Linked DNA regions of Homo sapiens: region 1 is linked to region 2. The links come from fine-mapping of genetic effects on gene expression. A gene starts in region 2. The other region holds a variant in brackets. All regions are shown on one strand. Distances are between the middles of the regions. Region 1 overlaps LINC00466 (long intergenic non-protein coding RNA 466). Region 2 holds the start of LINC00466 (long intergenic non-protein coding RNA 466).

Region 1 (5,375 bases), 120 kb before region 2:
ATATTTACTGGAAGAATGAATAATCTTATGTAGAATTATATAAAATAATAATCTTGTATAGAATAATCCTGATAATAATCCTATTTAGAATTATATAAAAGTAAGCTGCTGGCCAGGCACGGTGGCTCACACCTGTAATCCCAGCACTTTGGGAGGCTGAGGCGGGCGGATCACTAGGTCAGGAGATCAAGACCATCCTGGCCAACATGGTGAAACCCTGTCTCTACTAGAATACAAAAAATTAGCCAGGCGTGGTGGTGCACACCTGTAGTCCCAGCTACTCTGGAGGCTGAGGCAGGGGAATTGCCTGAACCTGGGAGGCAGAGGTTGCAATGAGCCAAGATCACGCCATTGCACTCCAGCCTGGGGACAGAGCAAGACTCTGTCTCAAAAAAAAAAAAAAAAAAAGTAAGTTGCTATTATCACAATCCAGTTGGAGAAAAAACATCTTATTTTATAAGACCATAAAATAATATGTAATAAGTGCAGCCCTCTGGCATAGTGGTTAAGAGCACAATATGCATTCACCTTTTTAAGGTTCTGGGGATAGAAGTGAAGAAGACAAAATGATTCCTGCTGTCATGAAGCTTCTACTCTGGCCTTCTCTCATAACTGCTACTCTTACCTTAAAAGCCCTGGACACTTCCTAAGGCTCTACATAATTAATAATAACTGCTATCACTTAGAGTATGCTTACTAAGATTAGTGTGTTTGATCCTCTCAACAACCCTATGAAGAAGGTAGCATTACTGTCAACCCTATTTTCCAGCTAAGAAAACTAAGGCACAGAGAAGATCACACAGCTAATAACTAGTAGAACTGGCTTTGTACCCAGGCAGTCTGTCTACAAAGCTCATATGCTTAGCCAACATGTGGGAGGATATCAAGGTCTTGTGGGACATGAAGCTTATATAATTCTAGGAGCTCTCTTTGAGAAAAAAGAATACAACACTACAAACACAAAACTAGGTACAGGGCCTTGGAAGGGGCCCATGAAAGAGTTACATTTTATAAGATTCACAGTAAATCTGCCTTTAGCTTCATGGTAAACCCATCTGTGCCTCTATGCAATACCCTAAGCATGAGCTCTGTTGTTATAATAAAGACTGCCCTAACCCAAATACCTAGAAGGTGGTTGAGTGAAGACAGCATGAAAATAAGCATTATCATTTTCCAAATGTGCAACTGTAGATAGGACTTTCTGGTGCTCCACGCCAAGTCAGTGAGCATTCATAAAGCACCAGCTATATGCTGAGCATTATGCTAATATGCTAACCTGCAGAAAATACAAAAGCCTATAATCCCAGCACCTTGGCAGGCCGAGGCCGGTGGATCACCTGACGTCAGGAGCTCGAGACCAGCCCGACTAATATGGTGAAACCTCATCTCCACTAAAAATAGAAGAAAAAAAAAAAAATTAGCCAAGCGTGCTGGCGTGCACCTGTAGTTCCGGCTACTCAGGAGGCTGAGACAGGAGAATCGCTTGAACCCAGGAGGCAGAGGTTGCAGTGAGCCAAGATCGCACCACTGCACTCCAGCCTGGGTGACAGAGCGAGACTCCATTTCAAAAAAAAAAAAAAATGTATACATATCTGTAGATATACTCTCAATGAGCTAGTTTATGTGTCCAGCACTATATAAATGCAAAATGAGACTGATACAACAGTAGCTGCCCTTGAGAAATTGAAATAACAAATAAGCACTTAATGTTTATTATGTAAATGGTATTCCTATAAACGGATTATAATTTGTGAGTTAGATACTAACATTACTGTCATCCTTATTTTACAGAGGGAGAAACAGATCAAGGAGTGGCAAAGCTTGGATCTGAATTCAGATGCGCTCATTCTCAAGCCGTATTCTTAACCACTCTACTACTCTTCTCCAATTGTTTTGGAAATATGAAACAATTGGAGATCTGAAGCTTCAAAACTCCTACCAACCACCATCTCCTTCGTGAAGCCTTCCCTGCCCACCCCAGATAGGTCAGGTTTCTCTCCACATAGCTTTCCACATTCTCCTCTCTCATAGCTGTATTAATAAGTCCCTGTTGCCTCCTTTCTTAGACCATAGGCTTCTTGAAGGCTATGTCCCAAGAACCTGGTAGGTAATCAACAAATATTTGAGAAATCAATGAATAAATGAGCAACACATGTTAGGGTATGGTCAAGTGGTCTGTTGGTGCTATGGTAAATAATTTACCTGCTGTAGGTTTTAAGTGAGACTTGAGCATGAAAGTAAGATTAGAAAAGTGGAAGGGAAAGGAAAATATTTCAGGGGATGGAAACAGCCTGAGCACAAGAGCAGCACTGGGAACGATCATGTCATGAAAAATGCATTTGTTTCCCACTGCTTCTGTAATGAACTACCACCAAATGAGTGGTTTAAAACAACACACAT[A/T]TATTCTCTGATAGTTCTGGAAGTTAGAAGCCTAAAATCAAAGTATCAGCAGGGCTGTGTTCATTCTGCAGGCTTCAGTGGATAATCTGTTTCCTCACCTCTTTCAGCTTCTGAGGCCACTCACATCCCCAGACTTGTGGCCCCTTCCTCCCATCACTCCAACTCCTTGCTTCCATAGTCTCATCTTCTGCGACTGCCTCTGACTCTCCAGCCTCCCTCTTAAAAGGACCCTTGTTATTATTACTATTGGGCCCACTCAGACAACCTAGGATAAACTTACCATCTCAGGATCCTTAACCACATCCTCAAAGTTCCTTTTCCTATGTTAGGTGATGTATTCACAGGTTCCCTAGGTTCTGGGGATTAAGATGTAGACATCTTTGGAAGGCCAATATTCAGCCAACCACGAAAGGGAACAGTAAAAGCACAGTGCAGGCTCTGCAAAGGTTCTGTCTCTGTAAGGCCACAGGGTAAATGGATAGAACGTGGGCCAGGCTTCTTTCCAGGCTCAGGCGTCTGGACCTTTTCTGATAGACAACAGAGAGCCACCATAGAGTGTTAAGAAGGATCAAGTCACTAAGAAAATGATGTTTTTAAAAGATTTATTTGGCAACTGTGTTTACTTGCTTCAATTGAAACCATCTTTTTTCAACATGGTAATAATAACTGGTTGTATATAGGGTTTTATTTTTATAAAAGTTTCACATATAAACCTATCTAGGAGGTATTATTATCTCTATTTTAAAGATGAGGAAACTGAGCTCAGAGCAGTTGAGTGACTTTTTACAGAAGATTTTATATACATACCCTACACGTGACAGAACAGAGCTAGATACTTTGAGGAGGCAGTGCTGTGCCTGCGGTAAGTTTCTGCTTACCCCCGTAAGTACAAAAGGCTTTGGAAGCTGACCAGAGTCCAAATATTAATTCTGCCCTTTACTCACTATGTGACTTTGACCAAGTTATATCACTTCTCTAAATTTCATTTCCCTTATCTATAAAATGTGACTAATAATAGTGCCTGCCTCACAGGTTTTATGAGGATTAAATAAGATAATGCTAGTAAAGAAAGTACTTGGCATAGAGCAATCGATAAACAGTAGCTACTATTATTATAAATACCACCTCCTTTCTATAACATTTCTCTCAGATGAGACCATCTAAGATTACACTTTAGATCAGCTTACATTTCAACACAGGAAGATTCAAAACTGAATTTAAAAGAAGCTACTGAAGATAGGTTTCACAGTACCTTCTAATACATGAGCTTTCTAGTTCCTCTCAATTAAAAAAAAGTAAATGTCTTCATAATATGTATTAGACAATGCCCTAAAAGTATGTTAATAATTTAAATTCCAACCCTCTGCTGTTTTCAATGTAATATTCTGTAAACCATAGTTATTCTTCAATCAAGGTCTGATTTTGTTTGGATGGGTTACATTGTGAAAGACCAAATAAGGTACATGGAGTTTTGCGGTCAACCTGCATGAATTGGTTTGTAAACTTCACTGGACAAGCAAGCACTTGCCAAGTGGTCTGAATTAACCTTTACTTTGTGCCCATCTCTAGGAGGAATGAATGAACACCAGTAGTCTGCTGGCCTGCCTGGTCTGCCTGGTGTCTGGCATCCAGAGACTTTTCCTGGCTGACCTTTTGGAGAATGTCCAACATTGAGAAAATGGAATCCAAAAGAAGACACAGAACCGGGCTCCATGTTTTCAGAGACTGCACCACATTGGTCATTGGAGTTAAATGTGTTCATATCCATCGGCTCTGTGCTCTGTCACGCAAAATATTAAAATGAAATGCTAGGAGAACAGTTTGAAGCAATCCTTCCTGTTCTTGAAACTCACCTTTAGCTGCTGAGAACGCTGGTAATCCCTTTGTAGCTTACTGGGGGCACATTTATCAGTGAGGCAGCTAAGCCAATTGTAGCTGCATTCACAGGTGACCGTGCTGTCTGCCTGCCTTCCCAGAGATACAAGAAACAAAACCAAACTGATAGAGAGGATCTGGCATTGCAAATTCACCCAAGAGAGGAGCCCAGGCCAGACTTCTGTTTTTATGGACAGGAACATTCGGTCCTCAGCAGACTTGCCTCTGAATTCACAGGCTCCTCTTACAATGCAAGCCACAATTCTGAAAAATAAAAGGGGATCTCAAGCAGAAAAAGAGATTACAAATAAGGATCATTCAACAACAATAACCAAAACATAAACCCTGGCAACCACTGTGCTAAGCAGCCCTGGCGGATGCCAGTCTTGCCTTCTCAGTTCCTGCTCTGATCGGTAGCACAACAAATTATCTAGTTTCCTAAATCCAGTGGGCTCTGACCGCAGACACAGGAGAGCAAGCCGCATTTAAATGTGAAAAGCTGTTACTGATAGAGCCCTCCTGGCATTTACAAAAAGTACTTTTTACATATAAAAAGCATGTTTGGCAAATTCCGCTGTTTTTGCTGCTAAGTTATACAACGTTGTAACAGACAACAAAAAGCAACAAATTAACACCCATCTTCCCATTAACAAATGACCCCACCCATCCCTTCATAGGTTTTAGATTTCCTTTAGAAATCAGAGAATTTGAAATGAAAAAAAAATCCCATTACTGTTCTGTTGCTCCTAAAACACCTCTTTTTTTAAAAAGCAATAACTAAAAGCATTTTTTAAAAGTCAAAATCACAATAAACTGTTAGGCTCAGATCACGTCTATAGTAATGTAAGTTATTTCCCTTCTCTTAAGACGTTTACCTTTTTCCCCCCATTTAGCCTGTTTTTTTTACAGTTCAATACATATTTTTCCAAGCTCCACTTGCCAAACAAAAGAGTTTAGCCTCAGTGTTACTCCTCTGACAAATATCCTTATGGTCTTGCACATGTGAGAGCCATTGATAAACAAATTAAAATTCTGTCCCAGCTCAGAGCTCAGCTGGCCCATTTTATCTTGCAGTATGGGTTTGTAAAGGTCTGGGTGTC
Region 2 (5,375 bases):
TATAACTCATCACACTACATTTTAGCTATGGACTTCCCTGAATAAGTCCCCCATTAGAGTGAGAATGTGTCTTACTGATCGGGTTATTCAAGCAATATTTATTGAGCCACACCTCCACCCCTACACCACTAGTACTTGGCTGGAGGCTAGGGATACAACAGTGAACAGATAAAAATTCCTGCCCTTCTGGAATTAACATTCTAAAGGTGGAATCTATCTTCTTACTCACCTTTGTGGTTCCAGTGTCTGGCCCTTGATGAATACGATAAGGTTAGAAAAACAGCTGGGTCTAACAACTAGCCTTTTGAATATTTTCTTTTCAAAGGATCTTTTCCTTTATCTACGTTCCCTTTTAAATTTCTTCCATGTGTTTGTTAGTCAAATACTTCCATGTAGTCTAAATGTACTATACCTAGACAAAATGTCTAAGCAAATTTCAATTTTTACATTTCCCTTCTCTCTTCTTCCATCCCTTTCTGTTTCCTTATCATACATCTATTGTCCATTTCCCTTGAGACCAAGTACTTTCTGGCTGTCCAGAAGTACCATTAGGCATCCAACTTAGCACTTTCTTTTCCCAAAGTATCCCGGGTTCTAACTTACTTCTCCCCAATCTCCCCTGAAAACCCCTAAAGTCAGAGGTAGCTGGTCAGTAGCATCTTCCGTATTGAAGGCTTCACACTTTCTCTATCCCTACCCAGTGAGAAAGGCCCTCCTCTGCGCTGTTTCCCCTTGCCATGGCACCTATCAACCTGCATGACAAACACTGATTCTCTTGCCTGGTTCTTCCTTAAGGAACCTTGGGTTTAATTCTTCTTTTCATTCCTGGTACTTTCCAGGTCTACAACAGTTCAATAAATTACTAATAAGGAATAAATGAGTAAATAAATATATATTGTATACTTATATATCCTCTCCCCCTGAATTCAGCTGTGGGTATGACTTAAATCCAAGAAATTTTGGATTAAAATGAGAGTTACCAAAAAAGGCAGCTTTGACCCAAGGAAAACTTGTTTCTTTAAAAATGTTAGAAGAATTTAAATTTTTAAAATGTGTTTTGGCCTGGCAGGATGGTTCACACCTTTAATCCCAGCACTTTGAGAGGCTGAGGTGGGAGGATCGTTTGAGGCCAAGAGCTTGAGACTAGCCTGGGCAACAGAGCGAGATCCCATCTCTACAAAAAATAAAAATAAAAAATTACCTGGGTGTGGTGGTGTGCATCTGTACTCCCAGCTACTCGAGAGGCTAAGGCAGGAGGATCACTTGAGCCCAGGAGGTCGAGGGCTGCAGCCATCTACAATTGCACCACTGTACTCCAGCCTGAGACACAGAGTGAGACCCTGTCTCAAAGAAAAACAAAAAAATGTGTTTCGATATCCGCGATCCATGTCACATCTGTTAGTGTACCTTTAGTACATGACTTCTGCATTGTTTGCTAACTGACATTCTGTGTGAATAAAGCGTGTATCACAATGGTGTTTCCGTATGTTATCCAAGTGGGTCCTTTCCCCAGGATGTGAGTGAGCCTTTGGCATGGTCTTTTTAAGATTTTGCCAAGGGAAGACTGGGCTGGAACTAAGGAGCTAACATACCATTGAAATCAAATATCCCGTTGGGTGCACTGGAGGGTAGAGAAGAGGGGATTCCTGCACTCACGCTAAATGATAAACTTTTCCAAGGGCAGGGTCGTGAGAGGTCTTCCAGGTCACCTAGTGTTCTGAGTCATGCAGAAGTAGGAAATGGACACAATACTCCCCGCAGAGAATCCTTCCCACAGGACTGATCCTGTCCCTTCCTCCCCTCCCCCGCCCCACACAAGGCGGAATCCCCACGCAGTGCACTGCAGGCGCGGTGGCCACTGCCCCTAGAACCAGATCTCTCCCCCAGTCCCGTCCTCTCCAAGCTCCAGATATGTCAAGGATTCTTAAGCAGGGGTTTTCCAATCTGTCCCTTGAGGAACTACCCCTGAGGCAAGGCGGGCAGGCCCAAGCTGCGATGTGGAGAATTCGATGTCCGAGCGACCTCCTCGGAGGAGTGGGTCGAGTTAAATATAACCGCGCGAATGGAATGGCGCTAAAAATAAGGCAGCAGCTGGCCTGTCCACAGCCCTGTCCCGGGAGGGGCGGGGGCCCCAGTGGTCTTGGGCAGGAAGGCCGCGTCCGGCCCAGGGGCGAGAAGGCTGCGGCGTCCGCAGCCAGGGCTGGAAGGCCTGGGAGGCCGCGCTCTGTGGGCCCCGGGGCCTCCATTCGGGCTGGGTCGCGGGCCTGGACGGGGACTGTCCAGAGGCATCCGAAAGCCAGGCCAACTTGCCTGGACGTAACAAGACGGAAGGGCTGGGCGCTGAGGTCCTGCCAGCCCGGCCGCCAGAGGGAGCTGAGCGCCAGAGGAGGACAAGCCGAACCCTTCAGGAGGCCGGGCGTCTCCGGAGACCGAAGCGCCGGAGGACCCGAGGAGGTCTGCCCCGCGCGCTGCTCTGGAGACTCCCGGGGCGGGTGGCGCTCGGCCTTTCCGCTCCCTTCCTTCCCACAAGTCCCTTCCCGCGCGCGCCCCACGGCCCTGCCCGCCCTCCCGCGTCAGCGCCCCAACCGTCAAGCCAGCAATTGAAACGTTTCCAAAACGGTCTATTTATTTGCTCCCAATAAATCGATCGGCGGTGATTAAAGAATCGATGTGGCCTGGGTGGGCGAGTCGCTTGAGGGGAGGGATTGGGGGCTTTCGCCCGGCGCCTGCAGGGAGGCCGAGGGCGGGCGCGGGCCTGAGGGAGGCGTGTCCCGCCCGGGCCACACCCGAGGACCCGACACCTGGGCTGGCAGGCCCCGGCAGGCAGCGTTCCCTCCGGCGGAGAGGGGCGCGCGCCCGCCGCCTGCTTTCCTCGGCCCCTCTCGCCTTTCTCGCGCGCCGGGGAGGCTGTGGCCGCCAGTGGCTGCGGAGCTGCTCAGAGGCTTTTGTTGCTCCTCGGCCGGCTGAATGGGGATTTTGTAAAGCGGGACAGATAAAAATGAGCAGCATCATATTGTTTGACAGAATGATCTCGCATGATGAAGTGTCGGCTCCGAAGGGGGTGAAAATGGTGAATTCCTAAAAACCCAGCCCTGGGCTCCTCCTCGAGCTGCCGGTAGCCTGGAGGGACCCAGCGGACAGCCGGGCCTGGCCGCATCGCTCCAAACGGTGTCAGAAAGACTCCGGCTTTCAATGCCAAGTCATTTTTAAGCCCCGATCCTGTCCAGGACCTTTCTCCTCGTGGATGAAAAGAACAATTTTCGAGAGAAAGGCTCGTTTTTATTAAATCCGACATGCTGCTGATAACTCCATGCTAATGTGAAATAATTAACATAATAGCCATAATTAAAAGCACGCTAACAATGCCATAAATTTATCACACAATTTTACTAGCTTTCTGCCCCTAACTGCTCTCTCATCGTTAATTAAACGTGTTGCCTTTTACAGAATGGATGTTTATATATTTCCAATATAAATAAATTCGAAACCATCCTCTCTCTCTTCCTCTTTCTCTCCTCCTTTCCTTTTGGTCTCTCGCCATTTACAGGCACGCCTTGGCGTGGACCCTGAGTGGCAGACATCTTGAAAATAAATGAAGTTTTGAGATGCAAATCCAAACAAGAACATTAAAATAGCCTCTTTTTTTCCACCCCGAAAAGATCCGGAGAGGTATACAAGGGGGTAGTGGTGGGTAAGAGAGTTGAAAATCCCCCGCTTTGGGAAATGGAAGTAATCTGGGTGGGTTGGGGCCTTGGGTACCACCTCTGCCCTTTCCCACCTTCCTTGGTGGCGGCCATCCAGACAAAGAGGCCGGTAATAGTTTAACAAATCTATGAAGATTTTCAAGAAGCAGCAGACTTTGATTGTTGCGGGCGCGGGGGTGTTGGGGAGAAAGGAGGGGAATTTTTCTAATAGTCCCACCCACGTTTTGCTCCCTCTTGGACAAAGAGTAACTACTCTTGGTGGGGGACGCGCCCTTCACTCCGCGGAACCTGGTCCCAACTCCCCGTATTGTAAGAAAAGTGCACCCGCGCGCGGGCATGATGATTCTATCTCACATCGCGCCAACGACTTATTCAAGCCACTGGCACTGTCTCTGACTTAAAAGAGGAGAAAAGAGGCATATGGGTTCACTTGGGCCTGGTGAGGGGTAGGTGGGCAATTCCCGCCTTCCGCACTCTAACCGTGCCCCTCCTCCAGTGTTGACCACCTAAGAACCCAAAATGAGCTGTAATTAATTTCCCTTTCTCCATCATAAATTTTTCTATCCATTTCTTCCCCCCCATCCCCCCACTGGACGCACACACTAAATCTCCCCTCCCCTGGAGACGTCTCAATTTCCTTCCTATCGATCCGGACTCCATTCTTCTTGCCTCCTGTTGCTAGAACCTAGATCCCCACTCCCCGCACCCCTCATTCCCACCGCGTCCAGGTGGCTTTCCCAGCGGGGTACCATGTACTCTGCCCGCTCCAGAGGAACCGAAGGGGTTTCATTCCATTCTCCTTTGGTTGAAACATTTCAAACATTTGAGCAGGTGAGGCAGCTGGCTGCCATCTTCCTTTTTAAATCTCTCCTGGGAAGTTCGCTTGTTGAGACTCAAAGAGTCACTCAAACTCATAATTGCGTGTGTGTGTCTACTCATTCTCCCTCTATCTCTCCAATAACCCTTTGAGACTCAGAAACTTTTTATCCACATACACCCTTTATCACATTTTCTTCCCCCCACTACATGTGTCTCACTTTCTCTCTGTATCTGTCTCGCTTCTTCCGTCTCTGTCCTACAGCTTGGCGGTAACTGACGACCTGTGAGCTTTTAGCTGCAAACTGCAACTACGCGGCAAACAATTTATTTAGCCCGACATCTAGCCGGTCTCCGGCAGGACCCTGCACCGCGTCGGGATCGGACCCTTCCGCTGGGGCGGCCTCCTGCGTCAAGGCCAGCAGGAACCTTCCTGTCGCCCTCCCCGGCCGCCGCTTCGCCTCCTTCCCGCCCCCGGAGGTTGTGCAGGCGCTATGGTCCGCCTGGAGGGAGAAAGCCGGCGGCCGGTTCCTGAGCCGAGAGCGGCCGCGGAAAAATCCTCTGCCTCCGCTGGAAATCGATATTAGGCCGGCGCGGGCGCGGGACGTCGGGGCCGCAGCCAGTAGGTTGTGCACGTCTCATCATTTAGCTAATCGAGTCGAAAAGTTTCTGTAAGGGCCGGACCCAGCATCAGATGGTAACACTGATTGAACAAGAGATTAGCACAATAGATCTCTAACCGAGGGGAAGCGTTGCTTTTCACGCTACGCGCCGTAATTAATGGTATGAATCAATTAATTTGACTTTTATTGTGTCGAAGGAAAAAAGCGCAACAAATGGAACCGGCAGCTGGGA

The links.
Region 1: its variant is fine-mapped to the expression of LINC00466 in tibial nerve (GTEx, PIP above 0.99).

The regions. Positions count from the first base shown.
Region 1 is chr1:63,194,463-63,199,837 of GRCh38, forward strand. It overlaps LINC00466 (long intergenic non-protein coding RNA 466), which reads right to left. Exons shown (of 12, transcript NR_038252.3): 5 at 4,254-4,558. LOC105378770 (a long non-coding RNA gene) reads left to right here. Exons shown (of 3, transcript XR_947454.3): 2 at 1,792-1,985; 3 at 3,970-4,247. Among named protein-coding and RNA genes, the nearest start is that of LINC00466, 120 kb to the right of the region's middle. RefSeq lists enhancers at 3,584-4,339, 4,340-5,094, 5,086-5,375, 5,168-5,375. The variant A/T (reference allele first, on the strand shown) is at 2,401.
Region 2 is chr1:63,314,748-63,320,122 of GRCh38, forward strand. LINC00466 (long intergenic non-protein coding RNA 466) reads right to left here and starts at 2,510. Exons shown (of 12, transcript NR_038252.3): 1 at 2,311-2,510; 2 at 1,202-1,340. RefSeq lists a silencer at 2,656-2,835.